Linked DNA regions of Homo sapiens. The protein of the gene in region 2 purifies or fractionates together with the protein of the main gene of each other region. This does not show direct contact. Each region holds a gene or a part of one and is shown on either strand. Other genes may lie near its edges. The genes, in order: CEP135 and ZBTB11.

Region 1 (3,835 bases), on a different chromosome or scaffold from region 2:
ACATACACATACACAGCATTCTGTTCTAATTTAGGAAGCATTAGATATCTGTGCAGGTACCACACTAAAATCTATGGGAAAAATAGAAAAAGGCAGTAGACAAGATCTCTACTTTAAAATGTTTAATATCTAATTGTAGAGGCACATGAAAAAGTTAAAAAAAAAAAAAACCTCAGTCTTAAATCCAACCTAAATAATATTTTTCACCTTGGCAGCCATTAAGCTCTCCCATCGTGACACCTCTGTTATGTATTTATGAACTCTGCTCTTCATTTCTTCTTTTTCTTGCACTGCTGCTTCCAATTCCAATGAGATTTCCTACAAATCAGAAAATTAAAGACAATCTAAAATGAACACAACACCAAATAAATTTTATTTATATTCAAATAATTCCTTTGGAATTGGAGAATAAGATAGAGTAGGGCAAAAGGAAAACTGTTCCTAAGTGTTATTTTCACATATTTTTCCTGGCTGATCTTGCCTTTTAAAATATTTCAGACAGAGTCTCATTCTGTCGCCCAGACTGAAGTGCAATGGCGTGATCACAGCTCACTGCAGCCTCGACCTTCTGGGCTCAAGCAATCCTTCCACTTCAGCCCTCCGAGTAGCTGAGACCACAGGCACATGTCACCATACCAGCTAATTTTTTTTTTTAATTTTCTGAGATGAGGTCTCACTATGATGTCCAGCCTGGTCTCAAACTCCTGGGCTCAAGCAATCCTCCCACTTTGGTCTCCGAAAGTGCTGGGATTATAGGCGTGAGCTACCACGCCTGGTCTGATACTGACTTTTTAACCAAACTTTATCACACATTTCCCATAATAGTCCTGATCATGTATCTGGCATTTACACTAAAGGCTAGCTATGGTCAGGGGTTGACATTAAAAAACATTCATATTTCATCAATATGCTTTATGCTGAATAATACGGAAAATAATTTTTTAAAAACGTAAGATGTTTAAAACAGTAAAATCACTGGTTTTCTCAGTACAATCTTTTAAGAAACCAGCACGAACAGAACTAACACCTTTCAGTACTTGCCATTCTAAAACACTCATTCATTTATCTACAGGTGTATTTTGGAGCCGACAGAAGCTTGCACAAATAATTAAAACCTATCCTGAGTCTTTAAAACACAGAAACTTTGCTCTGGGAGGGATGCTGATGTCCTCGCCCGGTAGGGTGACAATGATTTCTGACATACAGAATTTCATGCTCCCACCTTTAGGTTTCCTTGCAACAAAGACCAAAATGGTGAGAAGACCAGTTGCACCCATTAGACACCCTGTGATATATAGCAGCATTCTAAGCTATGTGTTTTTTTTTTGACAGAGTCTCACGCTGTTGCCCATTTTTTTTTTTTTTTTTTGGATGGAGTCTCACTCTGTTGCCCAGGCTGGAGTGCAGTGGCACGATCTCGGCTCACTGCAACCTCTGCCTCCAGGTTCAGGTGATTCTCCTGCCTCAGCCTTCCGAGCAGCTGGGATTACAGGCGCATGCCGCCAGGCCTGGCTAATTTTTGTATTTTTAGTAGAGATGGGGGTGGGGGGGGGGTTTTCACAATGTTGGCCAGGCTGGTCTCGAACTCCTGACCTCAAGTGATCCACCCACCTCAGCCTCTGAAAGTGCTAAGATTACAGGTGTGAGCCACTGCGCCCGGCCTAAGCTCCATTTTTTAATACCCTGATAAACACCATTGTCCTTAATGAATTATTTATGTCACTTATTTTTATATCATCAGATTTTAGAAAAAATATTTAGAGCTTTAATATTTAGCAAACAATGGAAAGTATAAAACTATCAAAATTTATGCCTTGTGTTCATACTTGATTTTCTCTTGCCATTGTAGCCAGGTCATCTTGCAGTCTTCTGTTTTCCTTAAAAGCGATTTCTCTAGATCTTCCTACTTCATCGAGTTCTTTGTGAGCTGCATCAAGCTGGCGCCGGAGGCTGTTTATCTCACGATCTCGATTAACCAATGTTTCTTTCAGCTGGCTGTTAAATGAGTGATGTGAAACTAATAAAGAAAACTTTTAAAAACTGTAGTTCATTTAAAAGAAAACTTATAGTCTAAGTATACTTAGAATACAAATATACTGTGATTATAAGAAATTATAACTGCTGCATTAAGAGACCTATTAATTAGGTAGAACAGGTATTTTAGAGCTCTACCAATAATTACATGCAAATGAAGTTAAAAAAAAATGTTATTCCAACAGTCAAGTAAACACAGAAAACTTTCAAGTGTTAAAAGTTGAATAGCTTGGGGGCTGGGCGCGGTGGCTCACGCCTGTAATCCCAGAACTTTGGGAGGCCGAGGCGGGCAGATCATGAGGTCAGGAGATAGAGACCATCCTGGCTAACACGGTGAAACCCCGTCTCTACTAAAAATACAAAAAAAAATAGCCGGGTGTGGTGGCGGGCACGTGTAGTCCAGCTACTTGGGAGGCTGAGGCAGGAAAATGGCGTGAACCCGGGAGGCAGAGCTTGCAATGAGCCGAGATCGCCCCACTGCACTCCAGCCTGGGCAACAGAGCGAGACTCCGTCTCAACAACAAAAAACAACAACAACAACAAAAACAGTTGAATAGCTTGAGCCCAGGAGTTCGAGACCAGCCTGGGCAATATAGGGAGACGTTGTTTCTACAAAAATTTTTTTTTAAATTAGCTGAGCGTGGTGGCACACGCCTGCAGTCTCAGCTACTCAGAAGGCTGAGGTGGGAGGATCACCTGAGCCTGGGGAGGGTGAGGTTGCCGTGAGCAGAGATCTCGCCACTACACTCCAGCCTGTGCGACAGAGTGAGACCTTGTCTCAAAAACAAACAAACAAAAAGTAAAGCATAGATTCAATTGGCAAATATTTATTAAATGTTTATAATCCCCACTATTATATAAAATGTTAAGGGTATGTAAAATAAATATAATAAGTGACTTTTTTCTTGAAGTGGCTTACAATCTGCCTAGAGAGACTATACATAAAATGTAAAATTTTGTGACAGTGCTCAAGATAGGTTTAGATGGAGAATAAATTCGAGATTGGCTACTAAAGTAATTTTAGGTTTTAATGATTAGGCTCCAAGTGGCATAATTATAGTAAAAATAAGGAACAAATAGGTATATAGGAGAATAGTTAATAAGACATAAGTGTTTAGATGTGGATGACAGAAAAGGAGAGGTTAAAGAAGATAACATTTTCAAGCTGGAGACTGAGAAAATGATGCTACCATTGACAAAAATGGGGAAATTGAAAGGGAAATTCTTCTATTGCTGCAATGCTACTGAATAGATAAAGCTGTATTCACTGAAAATCTCCTAAAAAGCTGGATGTAATTTCATTAATGACTTACTTCACAGATGATTCACACTCTGAGATCATTATCTTCATTTGAGCAACAGCTTTTTCCTATAGAAATTACAAAAATGTGTAAGATTTTAAACCAAAATGTCTTTAGCTAAATTTATGTAACTTGTCATATTCATATAGTTCAAATACACAGCTCAATTATATAAAGTATGCCTAAAACAAAGCTCCAAGTAAACATATCTCCATGTCCCAATCATACTTCACATACTGGCATGTTTTGACCAACCCTTGAATAGTTTTCTTGAGTTTGCTTTAATGAGATCTGATAAAATCACATTCTAGAAATAGACAAAATCACATTTTGAAGATTAACATTATTTGAAAAAAATGACATTTAAACATTAGAAAATATGGCCCTAGGTCTTAGAAACTTCTACATGGCCAATAATAACTGCATATTTGGGAAACTTCTGGGTCTAAAATGGTGGTGTAGTCACAAGCTGACTTCAATCCTGACAAAGAAAACCAAAA
Region 2 (2,707 bases):
TTAAAACCTGTTAGAGCATTACTTAATTCACTTCGATTGACAATACATGCATTTCAGGGAATAACAACAGTGATTCAAATTGCTTAGTAGCAGTAGCAGTAACAAGTAGCCAAAAGTGCTTAAGGCGTCCATATTTGATCAGGAGACACCCATAGTTTTTGGAAGTCATCTCATGACAGCAATATGCTTTATGTTTCTAAAAAGGAATTGTTATAAATTAACAATGCCCTCTTGGTAACATTAAAACTGCACTGAATTTTTGGAACCTTCTTAACATTTGTTTCTACATGGAATTTATATAATTTACAAATTTACATTATTCAAAGCTGATGGTTGATGGCACAATATATAATCCTGTGACAAGATTATGAAAAGGAAGTTCCCAGATATCCTCACAGGACATGAGACAGGGGTGTGGCTCATTTGTTCACCCAAACCCCTTACAGGAGGGGAAGCATGCAGATGGGCAAGTGCAGGAGCTGGATTGAGTGCTTTTGGGCTCTGGCCCCACAGTAGCATCTGGTGGGGGGTGTCTGCAACTCCCAAAGCCCCAGTGGGAATGTTACAGGGCTCCTTTAGCTCTGCTGTCTACAGATAGCTTAAGTGTTAACTAGCTCAGTGCCCTCTTGGTACCTGCGTTCTTGTCCAGCGTCCAGGAAGAATCAGGTCACATGGACAAATTGAAGGATGGTAAATGCAGGGGATTTTATTGCTGGATAAAGGTGGCTCTCAGCAGGATGGATGGGGAGCTGGAAAGGGGATGGAGTGGGAAGATGATCTCCTCTCCAACCGTCCCCAGCTGAACTCCTCTGGACGTTTAGATGCTCCTCTCTTCTCTCCTCTGCCGCAACACTCTTCTGCTCATGGAGCCTGGGGTTTAGGGTTTATATGGATACAGGATAGGAGGGCGTGGTGGGCCAAAAGGCAACATTTGGGCATGAAAACAGGAATGCCTGTTCCCATTTAGGGCCATGGGTTTCCAGGCTTTTGCTGGGGAACTGCCCTCTTCTACCCATTATTTCCTTGCCTCTTGTCCATATCAATTATATGTAAGAGTAAGAAGTTTTAATATTGTGTTCCTCCAATCGTTATTTTTTAGTGTTTTATTTCCTTTCCCTTTAAAAATAAATTAACTTAATAACACATCAAGTAACAACTGATTTATGAACTGAAAATAGTAACAAGCTCAACTCCAAAGTTCATGCTTTTCAACAAGATTCAACATCTTTTATTTACATGTTTATGACATACATTAATGGTCATACACAATTTTTAAACTAAATCTAGTAACAACAGAGGATGGAACATAAAAGACACAATTCCAAATTTTAGTCAGGTTGAAATGTTTTTCCACTAACTGAAAGATAAGATAAATGAGCAGCCATTATAAAGTTATGGGCTGTATGTCAATTCACGTCTTAAAATTGAAAGTCAGCCACACAGCTGTTAAAACAATGGGAAATTTGCAAATGCAAATATATAATGCATGCACAGCTATCACATTTATTCTTTATCCTTAAAGCCATTTTTAAAGTAAACTGGGAGAGGCAACTTAGTAATATATGTACATCAAGGCACATTCTTTTCTTGTGCTTTAGGAATGATTTACATGTGATCTGCTTATATCTTAATTTTATACTTTATAACAGCTTCTAATACCTAAAAGCTTAATTTTTAACAATTATTCTTTGAGTGGTAGTTTCCCAGAGAGAAATGTGGCATCTCTCATGGTTATTTTCAAAGTCAGAAAATTGGATAGCTTGAGGAGGTGGGATTTAAAAATCAAACATATGAATTAATATAACTTAGTTTTCATAACCTTTAAAAATAATTTATCTTCAACAATTTAGTGGAACTGTAATCAATTTCTTCAAGTATGATACTATGAGGGCTGCACTGAATAATTTTCAACATTCTGAAATTACCTGACAATTACATGGTATCCACAGAGCTGCTGTGAATGTCTATATTGCTATCTGATTTCTCAACTGCAGTTTTTCAACCAAATTAAACAATTAAACATGATACAAAAGCTGAAAACATACCAAATCTAGTTTGTTTGTTCATTAACTTGTTCATTCTTTGCAAATAATGAGAATTTTTTTTTCCATTAATTGTCCTATGTTATCAAGGAGAATTTTCCTGTCAACAGTGTTTAATAACTGTGTTCTTTTCTCATGGTCAATTTACTTGCCTTGAAGAAATAGTATAGTAAGGTTTTAATAAGCATTTCATGCATTTTAATGGCATTTTAAAAATTAGCTATTCATTTATGGGTTCCTCATATAGATAAATATATTGTGCAAACTTGATTACAACATGTAACTCATAAGTGCTTTAAAATAGAATAAAGCATCCCTGACTTAAAAGGGGATAAAATAAATAGTAAGTCAAGAATCACAGATCTAAAGCATTTAAAAAACGTAATATACCTATGCATCCTATTGAAATGCTTTATATTAGAATTTTCTTTTTAATCCATAAACAGGGCAAATAAATCACAGAATCTCTATATTTTGAGAATAAAACAGAAGAAAAGCCAACTGGTGCAGCCTTTTAAATGCAAAATGTATAATAAAGTAATGTCAAAATGCAAATGAAACTGTACGGTTTTAAATTCAGTACAGTCATTTATAAACATTAATTCATAAAAGGTATATCATGATAAACCACTGCCATCAAATATTAGGTTGGTGCAAAAGCAATT

What was found.
Region 1: the proteins of ZBTB11 (region 2) and CEP135 purify together in Homo sapiens (co-immunoprecipitation; one large-scale study listed by IntAct). This does not show direct contact.

The regions. Positions count from the first base shown.
Region 1 is NC_000004.12:56,007,895-56,011,729, reverse strand, and holds part of CEP135 (centrosomal protein of 135 kDa), read right to left. Parts: intron 3,404-3,835; coding exon 3,348-3,403; intron 1,996-3,347; coding exon 1,827-1,995; intron 319-1,826; coding exon 208-318; intron 1-207. UniProt on the Homo sapiens protein: Centrosomal microtubule-binding protein involved in centriole biogenesis. Acts as a scaffolding protein during early centriole biogenesis.
Region 2 is NC_000003.12:101,648,241-101,650,947, forward strand, and holds the end of ZBTB11 (zinc finger and BTB domain-containing protein 11), read right to left. Parts: 3' UTR 649-2,707; downstream 1-648. UniProt on the Homo sapiens protein: May be involved in transcriptional regulation.